7 linked regions of the Homo sapiens genome follow. The protein of the gene in region 7 purifies or fractionates together with the protein of the main gene of each other region. This does not show direct contact. Each region holds a gene or a part of one and is shown on either strand. Other genes may lie near its edges. The genes, in order: MYO1D, RELT, TMEM131L, MYO10, IQGAP3, GMCL1 and SLC9A5.

The links.
Region 1: the proteins of SLC9A5 (region 7) and MYO1D purify together in Homo sapiens (affinity purification with mass spectrometry; one large-scale study listed by BioGRID and IntAct). This does not show direct contact.
Region 2: the proteins of SLC9A5 (region 7) and RELT purify together in Homo sapiens (affinity purification with mass spectrometry; one large-scale study listed by BioGRID and IntAct). This does not show direct contact.
Region 3: the proteins of SLC9A5 (region 7) and TMEM131L purify together in Homo sapiens (affinity purification with mass spectrometry; one large-scale study listed by BioGRID and IntAct). This does not show direct contact.
Region 4: the proteins of SLC9A5 (region 7) and MYO10 purify together in Homo sapiens (affinity purification with mass spectrometry; one large-scale study listed by BioGRID and IntAct). This does not show direct contact.
Region 5: the proteins of SLC9A5 (region 7) and IQGAP3 purify together in Homo sapiens (affinity purification with mass spectrometry; one large-scale study listed by BioGRID and IntAct). This does not show direct contact.
Region 6: the proteins of SLC9A5 (region 7) and GMCL1 purify together in Homo sapiens (affinity purification with mass spectrometry; one large-scale study listed by BioGRID and IntAct). This does not show direct contact.

The regions. Positions count from the first base shown.
Region 1 is NC_000017.11:32,867,125-32,870,624, reverse strand, and holds part of MYO1D (unconventional myosin-Id), read left to right. Parts: intron 1-3,500. UniProt on the Homo sapiens protein: Unconventional myosin that functions as actin-based motor protein with ATPase activity. Plays a role in endosomal protein trafficking, and especially in the transfer of cargo proteins from early to recycling endosomes.
Region 2 is NC_000011.10:73,395,687-73,397,974, forward strand, and holds the end of RELT (tumor necrosis factor receptor superfamily member 19L isoform 1 precursor), read left to right. Parts: 3' UTR 1-1,788; downstream 1,789-2,288. UniProt on the Homo sapiens protein: May play a role in apoptosis. Induces activation of MAPK14/p38 and MAPK8/JNK MAPK cascades, when overexpressed. Involved in dental enamel formation.
Region 3 is NC_000004.12:153,605,860-153,609,359, forward strand, and holds part of TMEM131L (transmembrane protein 131-like isoform 1 precursor), read left to right. Parts: intron 1-3,500.
Region 4 is NC_000005.10:16,670,789-16,674,288, reverse strand, and holds part of MYO10 (unconventional myosin-X), read left to right. Parts: intron 1-399; coding exon 400-607; intron 608-1,463; coding exon 1,464-1,600; intron 1,601-2,746; coding exon 2,747-2,867; intron 2,868-3,310; coding exon 3,311-3,500. UniProt on the Homo sapiens protein: Myosins are actin-based motor molecules with ATPase activity. Unconventional myosins serve in intracellular movements. MYO10 binds to actin filaments and actin bundles and functions as a plus end-directed motor.
Region 5 is NC_000001.11:156,524,905-156,527,565, reverse strand, and holds the end of IQGAP3 (ras GTPase-activating-like protein IQGAP3), read left to right. Parts: intron 1-966; coding exon 967-1,080; 3' UTR 1,081-2,161; downstream 2,162-2,661.
Region 6 is NC_000002.12:69,832,660-69,836,159, forward strand, and holds part of GMCL1 (germ cell-less protein-like 1), read left to right. Parts: intron 1-3,500. UniProt on the Homo sapiens protein: Possible function in spermatogenesis. Enhances the degradation of MDM2 and increases the amount of p53 probably by modulating the nucleocytoplasmic transport.
Region 7 is NC_000016.10:67,251,979-67,255,478, forward strand, and holds part of SLC9A5 (sodium/hydrogen exchanger 5 isoform 1 precursor), read left to right. Parts: intron 1-563; coding exon 564-866; intron 867-3,042; coding exon 3,043-3,206; intron 3,207-3,414; coding exon 3,415-3,493; intron 3,494-3,500. UniProt on the Homo sapiens protein: Plasma membrane Na(+)/H(+) antiporter. Mediates the electroneutral exchange of intracellular H(+) ions for extracellular Na(+) in 1:1 stoichiometry, thus regulating intracellular pH homeostasis, in particular in neural tissues.

The sequences.
Region 1 (3,500 bases), on a different chromosome or scaffold from region 7:
TTTTTTTCTTTCTTTTTTTTTTTTTTTAGCAGACAATCTTCTCAAAATACTGTACTTTAATAGAACTTAACTGTGTGTTGGGGCAGTGAGTTATAGATTAGAAGAAAGGCAGGAAACAGACACACACATACTCACCACACCACCCCTGTATTCTTTCTCTGTGGCTGTTTGGTCATTTGGAAAATTTGGTGGGACAAAGGGTGTCTCTTGCTTGCCAGGGAAAAAAACCCATAGATACCCTGGGTGGTCTTCAAGTAAATGTAAACCTGCCATTGGTTCAGGGCTCTAGTTAGAAATAGCTCTAGTTAGATTTATAGGAGAGGTGAATGGCACACTAAATCTTTTTGGCTTCCATGTGAAATTCTTTGGCAACCTCTTTTGAAGGCCTTTGGAAAAGGACAGTTTGCTCTCTGCCTGTTTTGTACATTGGCTTCATATTGGGACAAAAATGGGAATTTGGGTTTTGGAGCTGCCATTTGGAGTGAATCACCCTGCCGCCTGGTTTCCTTTCCTACTCCGTGACAGATTTCCGAGACTATTTTTATTCAGGGTCATTTCTTGACCCTGGAGACTTCTGCTGAATTTAGTTCCCAAATAGAGCCAGATGTGGGTGGAATCAAGCACTTAGAAGTTGCTACTGGTTCATTTCATTGCAGGTTCTGATGGGATCTACTTTTCTTTTTTCTTTTTTTTAGACGAGGTCTCACTCTGTCACCCAGGCTGGAGTGCAATGGCACAATCATGATTCACTGCAGCCTTGACTTCCCCAGCTCAAGCAACCCTCCTACTTCAGCCTCCTGAGTAGCTGGGACTACAGGCGCACACCACCAAGCCTGGCTAATTTTTTTTTTTTATTTGGGAACTACTTTTACATTAAAGAGATACACTTTGGCTTTTTGCTTAACTTTGAGACAAAAATGTTGAATCTGATATAGCTAGAAATGTGTTTATTTAGTGATCTCCATATTAGCTCTATGTGGAGAGCTGTTCGTTGACATTCTCACCTAAGTGTGAGTCAGCTAAGCAAAATGGACACTATCTCTAGGAGTGACCTCATTTAATGATAATTCTCTAGTACCCATTTGTGGTGCTGCCACTGGAACTGGTTTGGGTCATTGTATTATTGCCCAGCCACTGCTAAGTCGGGGAACTTTACTGTCAGCAGTGGCTCCAGCTCCGCTGGGTAGATTACCTGTTCATGAGCCTCACCGACATGGCCTATAAAAATGCCAACTATATTCATAATGGGGTCAGAGGGTAACAGCATTTTAAAATATGCATTGTATGTCTCTCCTTTATCATTTATTAGATGCCTTGATTTGGATGACAGTTTTATTTCCTGTAGGAAGCAGGCTTCTTTCAGTTCAACTGCAATGTAATTACTGGCTAGATCTCTTTTTTTTTTTGAGACAGGGCCTCGCTCTGTTGCCCAGGCTGGAGTGCGGTAGTGCGATCTTGGCTCACTGCATCCTCTGCATCCCAGGTTCAAGCGATTCTCATGCCTCAGCCTCCCTAGTGGCTGGGATTACAGGCACGTACCACCACTCCCAGCTAATTTTTTTTTTTTTTTGTATTTTTAGTAGAGATGGGGTTTTGCTATGTTGGTCAGGCTGGTCTCAAACTCCTGAGCTCAAGTGATCCGCCCGCCTCAGCCTCCCAAAGTTTTGAGATTACAGGCATGAGCCACCGAACCCAGCCAAGATCTCTTGAATAGAACAATGTTTTCCAAACTTTAGTTTTGAGCATTTGTGGGAAAAGAGAATCAAAAGTATGCTTCCAATAGGGAATCATGGAAAGAGCACAGGCTCTGAGACGTAAATGACCAAGTTCAAATCTCAGCTTCAGCTGAGCATACTTCTCTTACCATAGGCTTCCCTAAGCCTCATTTCCTTATATGTAAAATGATCGCCTTTTAGGGTTATTGAGATGAAATCACATGTTCAGCAAGTGCCTGGTATATAATTCTCACTCAACTAATGCTAACTCTTCCTGAATCCTTCCCGAATGGCCTCACCTCCCTACCCTGACCCCATAACTGCTAGAGAGCTAGATATTTTCATCTCTTCCTTGTCATTTCTTCCTCCCTCACTAAGACAAAGTTTTGTCTTTTTTGTTTGTTTTGATTTTGTTTGGGGGGCAAGGATGAAAGTTTGCAATGGCGCAAACTAGGGAATTCAGATTACCTAGCAGAGAGTGCAAGAACACGAAATAGACAAATCTGGACCTTAATCTTGTCTTTGTTCCTTTACTACCACCTGTGTGACTTTGGACAAGTGACTTAGCTTCTTTGAGCCTCAGTTTTTTCATCTATAAAGATGATGTGTTCTTGTGAAATTATAGCACATTTAAAATATGTGTCAAATACCTATGGTGGTGGCTGAAGCATAGTAGATACTCAGTGGGTACCCCTCTGTCTCTGCTCCATTCCCTGGTCCAGCCCTGTGAACCAAAAATGCCCTTGCTATTCCCAATTCACTCTGTAACTATCACCCTATGCATTCTCATAATCACATTCCCTCCAGGTATCACTATTTAATTTCTAGAAATCGTTTTAGACTCTTTGGAAAATGAAATATATTCATATTTAAGAGATTTCTAAACTATTTTATTCTGCATGTCACTGTTCTCAGCCTCCGTGAAGGTTTGTAACATCTAGGCACTATTGCTAGGTAATAGACTTTAAGTCTAGAGTTTTTTTTTTGTTTTTTTTTTAAATCTATAACCAATTTCCTCATTATCTATAGACCCTATATGTTTTTCATATAATCTCCTGGTATTAAAGCTAGCAACTACTTGAATTCTTTTTTTTTTTTTTTTTTTTTTTTTGAGACGGAGTCTTGCTCTGTCGCCCAGGCTGGAGTGCAGTGGCATGATCTCTCGGCTCACTGCAACCTCCATCTCCTGGGTTCAAGCAGTTCTCCTACCTCAGCCTCCTGAGTAGCTGGGATTACAGGCGCCTGCCACCATGCCCAGCTGATTTTTGCATTTTTAGTAGCGACAGGGTTTCACCATGTTGGCCAGGCTGGTCTCGAACTCCTGACCTCAGGTGATCTGCCCGCTTTGTCCTCCCAAAGTGCTGGGATTACAGGCGTGGGTCACTGTACCCGGCCAACTACTTGAATTCTTACAGTGTGCTTAGTGCTGGGTTGGGTACTTTGGTGGGGGTTACTTTTAATAAAGTTACTCTTTGAGGGATAGCTTAATTGGGAGTAAGAGATACCTTAATAAATGGATCAATATAAAGTGAAATATGATTGAGCTCAAATGAATAGCACAGACAATTCTTTTTTTTTTTTTTTTTGAGACAGTCTCACACTATCACCTGGGCTGAAGTGCAGTGGCGTGATCTCAGCTGACTGCAACTTCCGCCTCCTGGGTTCAAGCAATTCTCCTGCCTCAGCCTCCCGAGTAGCTGGGATTACAGGCACCTGCCACCACATCCAGCTCATTTTTGTATTTTTAGTAGAGATGGGATTTCACCATGTTGGCCAGGCTGGTCT
Region 2 (2,288 bases), on a different chromosome or scaffold from region 7:
GGAGCAGGCTGAGCCCCGCCCCTGGCCCTGCTGCCATGTTGCTCCCCTGAAGGATGCCCCGACCCCCGTGCCTGCCCTGGCTGGATCCTAGGAGCCCACGGGATTCTCTGTATCATCAGAGGCTGGGCTTGGCAGAGGGGAGGGGCCTGTGCCCGTCACCCCTGGCCCCATTCCTTGGTAATTAGCCACACCCTTGCCTCTGTACAGGGCCCTAGAGCAGATGTGCGTCCCCCTCCTCTTCCAGCAGGTCTATAAAGGGAAGGGGTAGCAGAAAGTCCTGGGCTAGGAGAGTGAGTCCCTGGGTTCTAATCTTGGGCACATCTGTGGCCATCGCTGGGTCCATTTTTCTGACTGTGAAGTAAGGAGAGACGTCTCAGTACCCAGGGCCTCTTCAGCTCTTTGTAGGTTCTGGGCTGGGTTGTGGGGGACTGGGGAGCTGGGCTCTACCATCCCTCCCATTAGTAGCTTTATCCAGCCCCGTTTTTGCTGCTTCCAGGGCCTCTGCCTTCAAGGCCCCCATGGGGCTGTCCATCCATGGCTCTGCCTACGGAAGGGGCTTAATGCATGTGCCTGCCCCTCCCCCAGCTGTTTTTAATGAAACTGAAAAAATAGACTTGATCCCGGCAGGACTGTGATACAGAGCCCTAGCCTGCCCAGCCAGCCCCAAGATCTCAGGAGCTTTAGGGAGAAGACTTGGTGGGGCTGGAGCACACCTTGGGCCTCAGTGGTTTCTGTGTCCCTGTGGTGCCAGTGCTTCTGGGCAGTGCAGGCGGCTGCCAGGCCCAGCCCTGACTTCCACTCTGGCTCAGCAACCTGGTTATTTATGTGGGGCCGTGCAGGCATGGGCCCACTGCCTGTCCATCCTGTTTCTCTTATTTATTGAAACTCACCATTGCCCTATCCTTGTGTCTCCACCCCCTTCCATGTGTTGAATAATAAAAGGTGGGAAAGTGCTGTCACGAGGAGCTCCTTTTCTCTGTGCCCTTCCCAGCTTATCCGCCTGTTCCACTTGTACCTGTCCAGCCCTGCCCTGTGTTGGGCACCGTGACAGGCTGCCCTCCCCTCACAGTTCCTGCACCTCAGCAGCCAGGGAAGCAGGGCCCAGAGGAGACCCATCAACTCATCTGGTTCTCACCAAAGCCCCTAGCTAGAGGCAGGGCTGTCCCACAGAAATAGTGTGAGCCACATATGTGACTTTAAATTTTCTGACAGTCACATTTCAAAAAGTAAAAAGAAGCAGGTGAACTTAATTTTTTTTTAACCCAGTCTATCCAAAATATTTTCATTTCAATATAAAATCAGTATAAAAAGTGTGAATGAGCTGTTTTTGCTTTTGCTTTGAAATCTGGAGTGTATCTTACACATCTTGATTGGAACTCAAATATTTCAAGGGCTCCATAGCCACGTGGCCAGCAGCTACCACACTGGTCAGCGCAGCACCTGAGGAAATGCACTGTGTGGAGCCCGGGAGGTAATTGGGGGTGAGGAAGATGTGCGGGCCAGGGAATGTGTTCCACAGAGAGGGACAGCATGTGCAAAGGCTGAGCACCAACACATAGTGGTCACCTGGGCCTTATGCCCAGGGAGCCTCCAAAGCATTCAGCTCCTGCTTGGCCAGTGTGGAGAGGAAAGGAGCCACAGGAGCGGGTGCTACACCCGGCAAGACAGAGCGTCTCCATCTAAAATTCCTAGGGCAAGCTTCCAACCCGGCCCAAGGGCCGCATGTGGCCCAGGATATGGCTTTGAATGGGGCCTAACACAAATTCATAAACTTTCTTAAAACATTGAGATGTTTTTGCTTTTTTCTTTTCTTTTTAGTTCTTCAGCTATTGTTAGTGTTAATATGCGGCCCAAGAAAATTCTTCCAATGTGGCCCAGAGAAACCAAAAGATTGGACACCCCTGTGCTAGGGTTTGGTAATGGGAAATGGGTCGGGGGCTTAGGGCCAGCTGGGTGGGGCAACAGGAGCAGTCCTGGGGGCACCTGTGACACAGCCATGGAGGATGTCCCATGCCATCCAGATGTGAAGGCCCAGAGCTCTCAGGAGACAGACCTGGAGACAAGAAGACCTACAGGCACTCAGGTGGGTGTTTAGGCCAGGACTGGGCTGGGAGGAAATGTCCTGGGGACGATGCCTGGGCTGCTCCAGGGCACCACAGAGAAGGCACTGCTAGGGAGGCAGGAAAGAAACCAGGGAGGGCAACGTCCGTGGCAGTGTCCTGGCAGCCAGGGGAGGGGTGGGCGCAGGGTGGGCTGCAAGGCCAGGTGCTGCTGGGGGGTGAGGAGGA
Region 3 (3,500 bases), on a different chromosome or scaffold from region 7:
TTCTAATTTAAAAGAAAGTTGGAGTCCTCTGAGGGGAATGTGGTCTAGGCAGCTGCACACATGCATTCTTGGTGCATTTAGTCCAACCCGTTTGTACCGTTTCCCCTGGCAGTGGTGCACACGCCTGAAGTGGACTTATGTCTGCAGGGTGGACACTGTGCCCTGTCTCCTCCACCTGGCGTGTGAGTATGCCCCCTGGTAATGCAGTTCACCCAGATCTTCAAATCAAACCATGGCATACCTTGTCTGTGGATGTATTATGATGGGGTGATTGGGTGTCTTATTCTGTTTCTCTCCCAGACACTCTCTGGGGTCTAGAATACAAAACATTTGTGAAAAGGTGAATTATGGAGTGAGTCCTGTTGGACATTTCCCCTGTTACGTGAGTCTTTTAGGCTTGAGCACAGTCTTTGACATAGGATGACTTTGCACACACTTGAAATTAGAGTTGAGGGAATCCTCCCTCCAGAAGTGCTTCTTCTGTGATCGCTTGTGCCCACAAGAGATATGTGCCTGCAAGATGCAATGCCCGTGGCAGTGTGGTAGATGGATGGGAGGGACCTTCTATATCTTAATACTTTAAAGCAGTTGAAATATAAAGGCATGGATGAGAAATGTAGTGTCAGAGTAGGTCAGAGGATTTGAATTCTTCTTCAGGATCCTCCTGTCTAGTACTTGACATTCAATGCCAATAGCTGAGCCAAGATGAGCAGGTAATAACACTTTAATAAGCGTGAGTAAATTTAATATGGGAGTCTGGAAACATAGAGTTTGCCTGTATCATTGTAGATGGTAAACCTGCCCAGAATCTTTCCTTCCTGTACAGATTACTAGTATGCTTATAATGTTTTAAATGGCAACAAATCTTTCACTGCCAGAATTTAAAAATACTGTTTGGCTGGATCAGCAGCATGTTAAGTGGTACCAGAGTGATTGTTGATCAGATCAAGTAAGAGCTGAGGAAAGAACTTTTGCTTTCCACCATGTTCAGACCAGCAAATTCAGAGGTGCTAATTCACAGTCCTCTACGTGTCTGCAGAAGTTATATGTTAGCAGGAGATTCCTCCCAGGGAAGTTTGTACATGGACATGCATTTTGTTCTGACTGTTTTATGTTCACAGCACTGTCCTGGGAAAATATCCGAGATGTTAAAAAGTGAATAAATTGCCTGCTATCCATGTACAATTTAAAATTGTTCAAGAATTTTAAATATTAAAAATAAGAAAGGACTGAAAAATCTAGGGAAAGATAATTATAGTCTGAAGGGAGGGTTTGGAGTTTTTTTAGTAATATTAAGGGTTTGGGGCTCTGTTGAATTTCAGAGGAAAGCATTGCAATAACTTGGCAAATGATAAACGCGTATAATTGACAGGTAAGTCACAAGTGCAAAGAATGCTTGAGAATGAGAAAAGCATATATATAAGAACCTTTAAGTTTTTACTTCCAGCTTTGAGCATTAGTTCTTTGCTAGCTTTGAAAAGTATTTTACTTTGTGAAATGTGTGCTGTTTCCATTGTAAGATCTTTTCTAGAATCTGAAGAAAACAGCTTGGTCTTTGAGCTGGACTCAACCTGCCTGATAGCTGAGAATCCTAAGTGCCAGTCACGTTGTCTCCTGTGTGACTGGCAGTTAGGATTCCAGCAGAATGGGAACTCACTCAGTGTGTTTGCCACATTTTAGCCATTTCTCCCAAAGTATACAAATGGTCTGTAGAAACCATTCTAGTCATAAGATTGCCTTTAAAGGGAAAAAGGGAAAGGTGGGGACAGTCCCGCCTCTTAAGAATACCTTAAGTGATTTTCCTAACTATCAGAACTCCTGGAGGCACCTGAATAATCTGCCTTCTCCTATTCTGAGGCTTCCCCCCACCCCCGGGTGTAGCTTATTGTGTGAGAAGAAAATGTTCTAGGGTATGTATGAATGGCTTTGACTACATACTTGCCATCAAGAAACATAATATTTTGTAAGTAATAGAAAATGTGTCATATTTGGGAGGCCGTGATGGGCAGATCACTTGAGCCCAGGAGTTCCAGGCCAGCCTGGGCAACCTGGTGAAACTCCATCTCTACCCAAAGAAGTATATGTATATGTATAGTAGCCAAATGTAGCCAGGCATGGTGGTACATGAGCATGGGCCTGTGGTCCCAGCTACTTGGGAGGCTGAGGTGGGAGAATCACTTGAACCCAGGAGGTCAAGGCTGCAGTGAGCTGTGATTGTGCCACCGCACTCCAGCCTGGGCAATGAGTGAGACCCTGTCTCAAAAATAAAAGCAAAAACAAAAAATGAAAAAAAAAATGTGTCCCTTTTCTACTCCATTTCCCCTGCCTGCTTCGGAGAGGCCTGTAGTAAATAATTAATTAAAATTCTCAATAGAAATAAAGTCTGCTGACATTCTTTAGGGCTCTGTTTTTCTACACTTGTTTTTTGGCATCAACTTGTCAAACAACTATCAAACAGTTAAACTTGTCAAACATTCGTTATACGTTCCAGAACCTCTTGGTCATCTGACAAGAGTGGGGCTTTATGTGTAATGTAAATGATCTTGTGAATATAGCTCTTTTTAAATGTTTGTAACCATTTTCACTGTCTGATCAAAATAATGTAGATTAGAGTTATGGCTAAAGACAAGCTATGGTTGGCCGCAGCACTACCAAGGAGAAATAGTGAGCAAATTATTTCACGGGTTTCTACCTGTAATAATGTAAAGGTATAATTAAATTTGATAATAGCTCAAGCCTTGAGCTTAACAGTACCTGAAAGTTTTCACTGAATTACATTCCTCACCTTTCTGAAATTATTGGTATTTGCAGAAATTCCAAAAATGTTCCTATTTACTTACAGATACTATTAACTTGAAATGAAGATTTAATGGTTTATTCAAAACAGACCACGTGATTGTGATTAGATTTGAGACAGTACAACTTTAAGCAGGTTACTGAGGAGATCACTTGTGTCTTGTTCTTCCATTTGTTTCTGTTTTTTAACCACTTTTAAAAGGAATTACTGACCTATAAAGCTGTACATACTTAATGTATGCATCTTGATGAGTTTGGGAATAAGTGTACATCGTGAAACCATTACCACCGTGAAGGGCATTAACATGTGCACCTCCCAACGTCTTCTCCTGCCCCCTTTATTATTATTAGTGTTCTTTCCATTTGTTTTTGATTTTTAACTGTGGTACACTCTTACTCAGTGAGGTCATGGGGAAGTTGCACACTTAATAGGATGACTTGGTGTATTAGGCTGTTTTTCACTGCCATAAAGAAATACCAGAGACTGGATAATTTATAAAGAGGTTTAATTGGCTCACAGTTCTGTGGGCTGTACAGGCTTCTGCTTCTGGGGAGACCTTAGGAAACACAGTTATGGTGGAGGGGTAAAGGGGAAGCAAGCACGTCTTGCATGGTGGGAGCAGGAGGAAGAGAGAGTGAAGGGGGAAGTGCTACACACTTTTAAACAACTAAATCTCGTGAGAACTCTCTCACTATCATGAGAA
Region 4 (3,500 bases), on a different chromosome or scaffold from region 7:
ACCGTGTTGGCCAGGCTGGTCTCGAACTTCTGACCTCAGGTGATCCACCCGCCTCGGCCTCCCAAAGTGCTGGGATTACAGGCGTTAGCCACGGCGCCCGGCCAAGAATTTTCATATGATAGGATGAGGCATGACTCTTTCAAGTATTAACAACGCTGCAGAGGTGAGTTGGCAGCACAGTTGCTCCCAGTGAGACATTGGCTCTTTAGGGGTTTTTTGTATTTAAATTGAACTGCACAAAATGAAGCGGGCCCTTGCCAAGAAGTCACTGGTGCTTGCTCCATTCACCAGTGGGGGACCATTCACTGCTTTGGTCTACAGAACCTTGGCACAGCCTAGTTCCTCCCAGCAGCCAGCCCCCATCAGTCTAAAAATTAACAGTTAGTGTTTGCCTCCTAGGATACGGGAACAGTTTCCAGGAAGCGAGATGGAAAAATACGCTCTCTTCACTTACGAATCTCTTAAGAAAACCAAATGCCGAGAGTTTGTGCCTTCCCGAGATGAAATAGAAGCTCTGATCCACAGGCAGGAAATGACATCCACGGTCTATTGCCATGGCGGCGGCTCCTGCAAGATCACCATCAACTCCCACACCACCGCTGGGGAGGTGAGGAGAGGCAGCTGCTGCTTGTTCTGTTAGATGCCTTTGCTGCAGATACACCTGCGTCAGGAACATTGTGCAGCATTAGAGTGGCTGTCCTGCACAGTTGCAGTTTGCTTAGTACAGCTCTCAATACTAAGGAAATGCATGTAACCCAGAAGCAACCACACGAATATAGAGATAAAAATATATATATTGAGTGGAAACACAGAGATAAAGTACCTGAGACATAATCTTGCTAATCTGAGAAGCAGCTGAGTGTCTAGCAGAGCTGCAGACCTGGCTCAGGTCCAGCCACTTTGATGAGGGTTTATTGCAGTGCTTCTGCAACAAAGTGTTTGTTTGCACGTGACTAGCTAGATGAATATCAGATGAACACATTTTCTTTTTAAAATTTGAACTTACTATTATAAAACCAGTTGGCCAAAAGGGTGGTAATCCAATAACCACCACCCCGACCCCCACCCCCCAAGGCTTCTTATGGAAAAAAAAAAAACGTCATCTGGAGTCTCTGTTGTTCCTTGGAGTTCATAAATTTATCAGCCAAAAGACAGGACTGAAGCTTTTCACCCGCTTTTCCTGTTAATATAGGTTTGCAAGAAATCAGCCCAGCATCTGCCTCTACCGATGGGCAAAATACCCTGAGTTATTTTCAGCAAGAAAGAGATAAACCTAATCTCAAGAGAACAAAGGGAAAATAGTACTTTTGAAATTCTGGGATGACCACACGGGTAACATTTTTAGGAGGCTGGAGACGCCCTTGTGCCAGCAGCTCCCTCTGGGATCAGGTGATGGCACGTTCTGGGAACACGTGTTGGGGCCGCAGCCTGTGGAACTGAAGTCCCCCTGGTGTGTCTTCCAGGTGGTGGAGAAGCTGATCCGAGGCCTGGCCATGGAGGACAGCAGGAACATGTTTGCTTTGTTTGAATACAACGGCCACGTCGACAAAGCCATTGAAAGTCGAACCGTCGTAGCTGATGTCTTAGCCAAGTTTGAAAAGTAGGTTCCTTTTCCCTACTGTGTCAGAAGAGCAAATAAGAGAAATTGCAGAGCAGGGTTCAGGGTTTGAGCTTCCCATTCCATTTGTGGCTTCACGCTGTATTGGAGTTAGTTTTATTTTACCTGTGTTGATGCCTGTTTAACTTTGCATATCCGCTATTTTTCTCGATTCCTAGATAAAGCTACGGTCTTACGTGATGTAACTTGTCAGTGGTTTTTTACCCCATTCCTTTTCTCAGTTCCATGTTGGACCCGTCTGGGTATTTCTTGATTTTTTAGGTTTCCAGTTGTCATTAGCTTTGAAATTGGGCTGATTGACTGAAGCCAGCTTATAAACTCTTTAAACTATGTGTTATGTCTACAATATAAAATGGACCTACTTTTTTTTTTTTTTGAGATGGAGTCTTGCTCTGTTGCCCAGGCTGAAGTGCAGTGGCGCAACCTTGGCTCACTGCAACTTCTGCCTTCTGGGTTCAAGCAGTTCTCCTGCCTCAGACTCCCGAGTAGCTGGGATTACAGGCATGTACTACCACGCCCAGCTAATTTTTGTATTTTTAGTACAGATGGGGTTTGGCCATGTTGGTCAGGCTAGTCCCAAACTCCTGACCTCAGGTGATCCGCCCACCTGGGCCTCCCAAAGTGCTGGGATTACAGGCGTGAGCCACTGCACCTGGCCTGTAGACCTACGCTATTTGATCTGTGACTTCATATCCTCGAAGTAGCGCGAAGGTATTCCTGCTTAGTATAAACACAGCCCTCATACAAGAGTATTCACATCAATTTTTATAAATGTTATCATAATGTATCTGAGGCTTGGTAAAGGTAATAAAGAAACAGGCTTTTGTTTCTTTTCTTCCCGTGGACTCAGCATAATGCTTAGCTGGTACTAATTCGAATGCGGCTCTCTGAAAACACTTGTTAGCTGGTTAAACTAGGGGCTGCCTGTTTGTTTTCTTAAAGCAAAATCAGGATGAAAGTACGTTTTTTCACTCTGTTTATTCCTCTATCCCCATCTCTATCCACTGTTTTCTGGGCCCGGACAGAATGTCTGTGTCCTTAGAATACACCATGTAAAGTCAGGTCCCTGCGGGTCACTGAAGGCCCTTCTCGTTCATATTCTGAGCCTCTCTTGACTCCTCTCTGTAGGCTGGCTGCCACATCCGAGGTTGGGGACCTGCCATGGAAATTCTACTTCAAACTTTACTGCTTCCTGGACACAGACAACGTGCCAAAAGACAGTGTGGAGTTTGCATTTATGTTTGAACAGGTAAAAGGAATAGTTAGAAACAGATTTCTTTGCCGGCAAGCAAGGGTGAAACCTGTTAATACTTAGCCTTGTAAGTTAACTGGTACTTAGAAATGAGGCACACCTGTGGATTTCCCAGCAAAGACAAGACCAGCTGCTCTTTCATTCGTTTGTAGAATGAAACCTGCTACACATTTTATTTGAACCTCCGTTCCAGGGACTGTTCTAGTTGACAGGAGAGAGAGCACAAGGAATAAAATATGTGACGTGTGTTAGATGGTATCTGTGCTAGGGAGAAAATTAAATTTAAAGCAGTGAGCCAGGGGTGAGGGTACAGTTTTAGCCAGGGCAGTCAGGGAAGGTGAGTTTGAGAGAAACCCTCATGAAGTGAGGGAGCAAGCGACGTGGGCATCCCATGGCATGGCAGTGCGTTGACCGGAAAGCTGTTGACTGTCTCCTTTCAGGCCCACGAAGCGGTTATCCATGGCCACCATCCAGCCCCGGAAGAAAACCTCCAGGTTCTTGCTGCCCTGCGACTCCAGTATCTGCAGGGGGATTATACTCTGCACGCTGCCATCCCACCTCTCGAAGAGGTTTATTCCCTGCAGAGACTCAAGGCCCGCATCAGCCAGTCAACCAAAACCTTCACCCCTT
Region 5 (2,661 bases), on a different chromosome or scaffold from region 7:
CCAGTGTTCAGGAAAGGAGTGAAGCAACGGTGTTTTTGGTTGTGGTTGTTGTTGTTGCTTTTTTGGGTTTTTGTTTGTTTGTTTTCTTGAGACGGAGCCTTACTCCGTCACCCAGGCTGGAGTGCAATGGCGCAATCTCAGCTCACTGCAACCTCTGCCTCCTGGGTTCAAGCGATTCTCCTGCCTCAGCTTCCTGAGTAGCTGGGATTACAGGCGTGCGCCACCACACCGGCTTTTTGTGTATTTTTAGTAGAGATGGGGTTTCACCATGTTGGTCAGGCTGGTCTTGAACTGCTGACCTTGTGATCCGCCCGCCTCAGCCTCCCAAAATGCTGGGATTTACAGGCATGAGTCACCATGCCCAGCCGAGCAGTAGTTTTTAATCCAAATCTTTTTGCTCTGATGTTTTACCTTTTGAGTAAGAAAAATGATTTTGGCCGGGTGCAGTGGCTCACGCCTGTAATCCCAGCACTTTGGGAGGCCGAGGCGGGCGGATCACGAGGTCAGCAGTTCAAGACCAGCCTGGCCAATATAGTGAAACCCTGTCTCTACTAAAAATACAAAAATTAGCCTGGCGTGGTGGCACCTGCCTGTAATCCCAGCTACTCAGGAGGCTGAAGCAGGAAAATCGCTTGAACCTGGGAGGCGGAGATTGCAGCGATCCGAGATCGCGCCACTGCACTGTAGCCTGGGAGACCGAGTGAGACTCCGTCTCAAAAAAATAAATAAATAAAATAAGAAAAACAATTTCAAGCCCTGGTTCTGCTTGAGTTGACATTTGATCAAGTCACTGTACCTCTCTTGCCTCAGTTTCCTCATTTGTGAAGTGGGATTTCAATGCCCTACTTCAGTGGCCAGTGCCACTGGTGACTGCAGAAGGCCCCATGATGTGAGTGTTTTGTACACCATCTGACTGGACCACATTCAGAAGCCCTTAAACTCCCCTCCCTGCCTCTTCCCTCCTAGGATCTCCTGCAGCTCCAGTATGAGGGTGTGGCTGTCATGAAACTCTTCAACAAGGCCAAAGTCAATGTCAACCTTCTCATCTTCCTCCTCAACAAGAAGTTTTTGCGGAAGTGACAGAGGCAAAGGGTGCTACCCAAGCCCCTCTTACCTCTCTGGATGCTTTCTTTAACACTAACTCACCACTGTGCTTCCCTGCAGACACCTAGAGCTCAGGACTGGGCAAGGCCCAGGGATTCTCACCCCTTCCCCAGCTGGGAGGAGCTTGCCTGCCTGGCCACAGACAGTGTATCTTCTAATTGGCTAAAGTGGGCCTTGCCCAGAGTCCAGCTGTGTGGCTTTTATCATGCATGACAAACCCCTGGCTTTCCTGCCAGATGGTAGGACATGGACCTTGACCTGGGAAAGCCATTACTCTTGTGTCTGCTACTGCCCTCCCACAGTCACCCCAATATTACAAGCACTGCCCCAGCGGCTTGATTTCCCCTCTGCCTTCCTTCTCTCTGCACTCCCACAAAGCCAGGGCCAGGCTCCCCATCCCTACCTCCCACTGCATCAGCAGTGGGTGTTCCTGCCCTTCCTGAGTCTAGGCAGCTCTGCTGCTGTGATCTGCACACCCTCCAACCTGGGCAGGGACTGGGGGGATGCAGTGTGTGTTAGTGCCCATGTGGCATTGTGGCACTGTTGCCCCCCATGGCGGCATGGGCAAGATGACCTTCCATTAGCTTCAAGTCTTGTTCTCTTGTCTGTGGTCTGTTTAATATGTGGGTCACTAGGGTATTTATTCTTTCTCCCATCCTTACACTCTGGATCATTGTGCAGACTTAATCAGGGTTTTAACGCTTTCATTTTTTTTTTTTTTTTTTTTTTTTTGAGCTCAAAGAGAGTTCTCATTTTCCCTATTCAAACTAATACCCATGCCGTGTTTTTTACCTTGGATTTAAAGTCACCTTAGGTTGGGGCAACAGATTCTCACTCATGTTTAAGATCTTGTTATTTCAGCTTCATAAGATCAAAGAGGAGTCTTTCCCTTTTCTCTTTTACCCTCAGGATTCTCATCCCTTACAGCTGACTCTTCCAGGCAATTTCCATAGATCTGCAGTCCTGCCTCTGCCACAGTCTCTCTGTTGTCCCCACATCTACCCAACTTCCTGTACTGTTGCCCTTCTGATGTTAATAAAAGCAGCTGTTACTCCCACATCTGTTGTTAACCCTTATTTCATTTTCTGTAGAGCCGGCCTTTAAGTTCTGGAACACAGCTCCCTGAGAGAACTGGGGAATCCTTCCTGCAGCCTCCCCCAGCCCTCTGCCTGCCTCCGGTGTGGTCCTACTCTGCCTGCCTGAGATCGTAAAAGCTTAATGAGATGTGGCATTTATTCTCTCTTCCTTCCCCCGGGGGACAGAGAGGAGGAAGGAATGCTTAGGTTTCTATTCTGTTTTTATCGGCCACTCTGAAGACTAAAGCTGAGAAGAGAAGCCACTCTAATTTCTACCCCACCCGTTTTACACACAGTTCCTGCAGGTTCTTTTCCTGAGCCTTGGGTGGTGATATCAAAGGTGCTTAAGCCATAACTCCTTAGGTATTGTAGATTCTACACTCTGATCAAAATCTCCTTTCTGAAGGGAAAGCTCCCTCCTTTCCTCCTTGCTTTCAGAAAGTAGGGAGGGAAGTCTGTTGGGGAGGGGACAGTAGAGACA
Region 6 (3,500 bases), on a different chromosome or scaffold from region 7:
TAAACAGCATATAGTTGAGTCTTGCTTCTTTTGTCCAACAGGACAATCTAACCTTTCAATTAGTAGTTAGACCACTTATATTTAACGTAATTATTGAAATATATGTCACAGTGCATTTGAAGGAGAGAAATCACACAGCAATTTGAATACAGGAAATTTAATATAAACATTATTAACAAGGCACAGAGAATTAACTACTGAGGACAAAACGCTAAGGTAAAGAGATCCCTAGAAAATACATGTAGTAGTCAGTACTTCTAAGGCTGAGGCAGAATAGCCACAGAAGGAACAAATTTGGAATAGGTGCCCCCACCCCTTTCCCAAGCTAAGATTCAGATGATGTTGAAGGAGGTGTGGCTGTAGCCCACTGGATGGTGGAAAAGTTTGCTCAAGTGTGGTAAGCTGAGGCTGGCAAGTAGGACACTGCCTACTAGGATGCCAACAAAATTATTTGGAGGCCTTTTGGCCCAGAAGGCTAAAGATATTTACTATCTAGACCTTTACAGAAAAAGTGTACCAACTCCTAGACTACATGAGTGGACTGGAATGGAAAGTTTTTAAGGCAAACCTTTATCGGAAAATGCATATCAGAATTTAGTGTCTGTATATTACTGGAAGATGCTTGGATTATTCAGCCCAATACGGATGCAGGGTGTAAGAAAATACTAAGACGGGCCAGGCGTGGTGGCTCACGCCTGTAATCCCAGCACTTTGGGAAGCCAAGGCAAGCAGATCACTTTAGGCCAGGAGTTTGAGACCAGCCTGACCAACACAGTGAAACCCCGCCTCTACCAAAAAATACAAAAATTAGCCAGGCTTGGTGGTGCACGCCTGTATTCCTAGCTACTTGGGAGGCTGAGGCAGGAGAATTACCTGAACTCAGGAGGCGGAGGTTGTAGTGAGCCAAGATTGCGCCACTGCGCTCCAGCCTGAGCAACAGAGTAAGACCCTGTCTCAAAAACTAAACAAATAAAAATTTAAAAGAGAAAGTATTAAGATGTTGAATTTTGTGTGTTGGCCCTAGTATATACTTCCTGAGGTTGTCTGGTGTGCTCTCCCACATCAACAGACCACTTTATGAGAAGTTTTAGCTTTTAGGCCCAACTTCCACCTCATACCTTTGTCAACTGCATGTTCTACTTTTACATTTACGAGACTGTTAAAACCCACACTGTTCTACAACCAGATCTTGAGTGTTTTGTCCGTAGCTTGTCTCTAAAAAATTGAAACGACATTACATAGTTATAACTAAGTAAATATTGTTTCAGAAGAGTTAAGTAGTATGCTAGGATTATAAATCATACTTGATGGGTCCAGTGTCACAACTGCTTGTCTGTTCAAAGGGAGAAATTTTTCTAACCTCACAGTCATATGGAATCTTTTCTTGTATTCCATCAAGTGCTTAAAGTCAGGCCCTGCTTTTGTTTTTATCTTATTTGGACAGTGCCTTTTTTTGTATTGCTTTTTTATTGTCCTAGAGTTTATAATGGCCTTTCCCCCACTCTTGTCAAAATAACAATATTCCTTCATCATGGCTTCGGGTTTTTCTGAAAAAACACAGAAAAGTCTTTTGAAACACACTTTCATGGAATCCTTCTCTAAAACCTAGACCTCTTCCATCCTCCTGTTCCAATCTGGATTTGTCTACTCTTATGCTGGGACTTACTTTCACCCCATCTCTAGGATTGAATCCACTATTTTGTGTAGCCTGCATTTCTTTCTCGCTTATTTTAGGAACTATTTAATACATCCTCAAGTATTTTCCAAGGAAGGGTGCAAAAGGGGGTAATTTGTGCGTATCTAAATATAAATTTAGTCTCTTTTACTTTATTCATCCTCTGACTGGGTATGGAAATCTAAAGTAACTTTCTTCATATCTTTGATGACGCTGCTTCATTGTCTTCAGGCCTACAGTCTTGATGAAAAATTTGATTCTGGTGTAATTCTCTTTTCAGGTGACCATTTTTGCTCTCTGGAACTTGTGGAACTTTTTCTTTGGTATTTTGGGATTTAATTAGAATGTGCTTAAGTGTGGGTCTTTTAATGGCCTTGGTACTTGTTGGATCCTTATAATCTGGAGACTCATATACTACCTTAGTTTTGGGAAATTTTTTTCCATTAATTTCTTCCATAATTTCCTTTCGCTTCTTATCTTTATTTTTTCTTTCTGGGATGCCTCTTAACTGGATTTTGGATTTCTTGGATTATGCCTGTCTCTTCTTTTTTCCTTTCTTTGTCTTTTTGCTTTATGTTCTGGGAAATTTCCTTTAACTTTTTCATCACTATCATTAGGTTGTTTGGCCCTAACTATGAGGTATTTCTTTTGGACCAGGGGTGAAAATTACTAAAATATGAAATGTGCTGTGATCCATGAAAGCTTGGGAACCTCTGCTCTACAAAGCATGCCCCACCTATAACCAACTTCGTAGTCTTCTTACTCAAAGAAGAGGTACCTTGGAAATAGATCTATTTACTCAATTAAAACACCATACATCAGTTATTCATTCTTAAATATAAGTGGACAAGCAAGGAAGGATCACCCAACATGAGGAAGAAAAACAAACAAACTATTCTTTGGTTTATTTGTTTTTTTAAATTTCAGTAATCATGTCTTTAGTCTCTAAAAGCTCTTTCTTGTTCTGAGTGATCCTTTATCATAGCAGTCTATGGGGTAAATATAATAATCTCAGATCTCTAGGTATACTGGTGAGAGGGTGTTTTTTTCCTCTCTTTTCCCTGAATTATATGTTTCCAGGGGTGGAGGGAGTCTCTCTGTCTCTCTGATATGCTCTTATTCTTCCTCATGGTGGGTGATCCTTCCTTGCTTGTCCACTTATATTTAAGAAGGAGTAACTGGTGTATGGTGTTTTAATTGAGGAAATAGATCTATTTCCAATGTACCTCTTCTTTGAGTAAGAAGACTACGAAGTTGGTTATAGGTGGGGCATGCTTTGTAGAGCAGAGGTTCCCAAGCTTTCATGGATCACAGCACATTTCATATTTTAGTAATTTTCACCCCTGGTCCAAAAGAAATACCTCATAGTTAGGGCCAAACAACCTAATGATAGCAGATTGCATGGTATCTGAAAGATGTTACTGTGTTTCCTTCGAATTTAAAATACTCCACATGCCTCTCTGAGTTGGCTGTGGTGCTCTAAGTTCAGATGGTATCCTGAACTGGTGAATTTCACACACGGTTTGGGAACCATGACTTAGGGTGAATGGATTGGGAGTGAACAGGCCACAGATTCTTTAAATTTCAGAATGAGGATTGCTTTGTCTGGGCACCAGCAGCTACACTACAGCCTTAGATCTTCCATTAGCTTTGTGCTATTTCTAGAAAAACCTTGGAATCTTTTTGCCTCAGTATCTGTACTCTCCTTATCTATACTCTGTGTTCATAGAGTGGAGAAGGCACTAGTTTCCCCATTTTCTGCCCCTCTTCTTACTTCTGCCTTTGTTTCCCTGAGACCTCATCCTTCTTTTCTCCCAAGGGTTCT
Region 7 (3,500 bases):
GGATGAAAGTATAAAGGAAGGGACATTTCTAGAAGGGGAAAAAGCAGTAAAGGCCTAGGTTACCATAGTGTGACAGGAGCACTAAGAAACAGATGACTTTGACTGCAGGGGAGGGTTTGTAGCCCTGGAGATTGGAAATTCTAGAAGTCTTGCATATTTCTCCTCCCTTGGTCCCAGTCTTAGAAGGTTGGCCAGGCGCGGTGGCTCACACCTGTAATCCCAGCACTTTGGGAGGCCAAGGTGGGCGGATCATGAGGTCAGGAGTTCAAGACCAGCCTGGCCAACATAGTGAAACCCTGTCTCTACTAAGAATATAAAAAAAATTATCTGGGCATGGTGGCGCGTGTCTGTAGTCCCCGTACTCAGGAGGCTGAGGCAGGAGAATCACTTGAACCCGGGAGGTGAAGGTTGCAGTGAGCTGAGATTGTGCTACTGCACTCCAGCTTGGGCAACAGAGTGAGACTTCATCTCAAAAAAAAAAAAACAAAACTGGGAGTTCATAGGCCTGTGTGTGGGAGGATATTCCATAAACTGATCCATCCTGCACTCTTTTTGCATTGCAGTGTTTCACCTGTCTCGGAAAGTAACATCTCTGGTCCCTGAGAGCTGCCTGCTGATTTTGCTGGGCCTGGTGCTAGGGGGAATTGTTTTGGCTGTGGCCAAGAAAGCTGAGTACCAGCTGGAGCCAGGCACCTTCTTCCTCTTCCTGCTGCCTCCTATTGTGTTGGACTCAGGCTATTTCATGCCTAGCAGGCTGTTCTTTGACAACTTGGGTGCCATCCTCACCTATGCCGTGGTAGGCACACTCTGGAATGCCTTCACAACAGGCGCTGCCCTCTGGGGCTTGCAGCAGGCTGGACTTGTAGGTGAGTGACCCTAAGACCTGGGCTTTGCCAGACCCATCACCCCTCTCCCTTCTCCTCAAGCTCTGGAGGCCCATGCTGGTGTGAGCCATGCCCTGAAAGCTCCATCCTAGGTCCCTCCCTCTGGAGTGCAAGGCAGTGCTCCCGCTGGGGTTCAGGCCTCATTGAGGTCTCTGCCAGTCTGGGCTTCTGCAGCATAACAGCTGAGCAGGAGTCTGGCTCCCAGCTGTATGTGGGCTGCCAAGGCTGGGGAGCCTGTGTTACCATTCTGTTGCCTCCTGCCCTCTGTTACCACATTGCCATTTGCCAGCCCGTCTCCCCTGAGGCATAGCTGTGCATCATTTCTGCAAGGGCCTGCTGTCCTGGCTCTCCCCAGGCCAGGTCTGGGTGGTTTTCTGTTTTTATTATTATTTTTTTTTCTTAACTATATGTTGTCTATAAGAAATTCATTATTTTAAACATTTATTTTTTTAAATAAATAAATAGATATTTAAAAAATAAATATTATAAATCCATCAAATGCTGGCACTACACTGGGTTTTCTCTCCTTACTTATCCCACTGACTCTTCATAGCAACCCTTTTGTGTAGTTTGTCACATTTACACATGAGGAAATAGAACCCCTTGCATTTGTTTGCTATCAGGTCCAAGGTTAGCAGAAGAGGTCCGTGTTTGTTGTTGTTGTTGTTGCTTGTTTTTTTGAGATGGAGTCTCACTCTTGTCCAGGCTAGAGTGCAATGGCATGATCTTGGCTTACTGCAACCTCCACCTCCTGGGTTCAAGCAATTCTCCTGTCTTAGCCTCCTGAGTAGCTGGGATTACAAGCACATGTCACTATGCCCAGCTAATTTTTGTATTTTTAGTAGAGATGGGGTTTCGCCATGTTGGCCAGGCTGGTCTTGAACTGCTGAGCTCAGGTGATCTGCCCACCTCAACCTGTCAAAGTGCTAGGATTATAGGCATGAGCCACCACGCCTGGCCCCAGGTCTGTTTTACTGAGGCTCTTTGCCTTTAGGTTGCCCTCTCTTGCTACCTTCTTTATTTCCTAACCCAAGAAATTCATTCAACCCTGAAGGTTAATGATTCACACTTTTTCCAAGGTATTACAAGAAAACGTTTACAATTGCTACCTGGGACTCTAACCTGGTTTCCCTATTGAGGTAGTGAACTATTTGGGGCAGGAAGGGAAGGGAGGACATCAGATCATAATAACAGTAATAGATAATAATATCTTTTGGGTGCTTACTATATGTTAGGCATTGGCTAAGGAACTTTTTGAGGTAGATATTGTTATTAGTCTCAATTTAGACATGGGGAAACTGGGGCTCATAGAAATTATATGACATATTCAAGTCCGATCTGTGTTGCTTTTCTTACTATATTCAGTTCTCCACACCTGCTGAGAATTGTGTCACATCCCTTTGGCCGGGAACCACAGGTGTGGGAGAAAGCACTCTCTTTTGTTATTCCCCCTAATAAAAATAGTTAGCAGCCAATTTCCATTTGCTGGTAGTTATTATTACTGTTGCTACAGTGCTTTTTCCCTATTTTATTTTATTTATTATTATTTTTTGAGACTGAGTCTCACTGTGTCACCCAGGCTGGAGTGCAGTGGCACAATCTCGGCTCACTGCGGCCTCCGCCTCCCTGGTTCAAGTGATTCTCCTGCCTCAGCCTCCCAAGTAGCTGGGATTACAGGCCTGCACCACTGCGCCTGGCTACTTTTTGTATTTTTAGTAGAGACAGGGTTTCACCATGTTGGCCAGGCTGGTCTTGAACTCCTGACCTCAGGTGATCCAGCCCACCTCGGCCTCCCAAAGTGCTGGGATTACAGGCATGAGTCACTGTACCTGGGCTTTTTCCCTATTCCAAATGGCTGGGTTGAGTTTTGAAACAATCTTGTGAGGCAGGCAGATGAGGAGGCATGGCTAAGGTGAGCCACATGACAGTGACGGACCAGCATCACACAGTTGGTAAGTGGCAAAGCCAGACCTTAGGCATAGGTAGCTTGACTGAAGTCTCCTGATCTGCAGGCTAATGCTGTCTTTGCCATCCCAAGTCCTCTTTGGGCTTCCTTGCTGTTATCAGCAGGGGTGGGGCCTGGGCTTGTTCCAGGGCGTGCTCCAGGAGACTGGGTCGTCTTCAATGACTGGCCTGTCCTACACATGTCCCTTAATAGCCCCTAGGGTGCAGGCTGGCTTACTGGACTTCCTGCTGTTTGGGAGCCTCATCTCGGCGGTGGACCCCGTGGCCGTGCTAGCTGTCTTTGAGGAGGTGCACGTCAATGAGACTCTCTTTATCATCGTCTTTGGCGAGTCCCTGCTCAACGATGCTGTCACCGTGGTGAGCGTGCTCAGCTGACTGCCATTCCCTGACCCCAGGCTGCATGCTCTGACCAACTAGGGGTCTGCGCAGACTCAGTCCCTTCCCTTGGGTCCCCTGGGGCAGAAATATGCTGTCTGCTTTCACCCTGCTCTCCCAGCAGTCTGTCTCCCAGCAGTCCCAGTTGCTGCCTTCCCGCCTCACTGCTGACTCTCCTCTTCTCGCTCAGGTGCTGTACAAGGTCTGCAACTCCTTTGTGGAGATGGGCTCTGCCAATGTGCAGGCCACTGACTACCTGAAGGGAGTCGGTCAGTA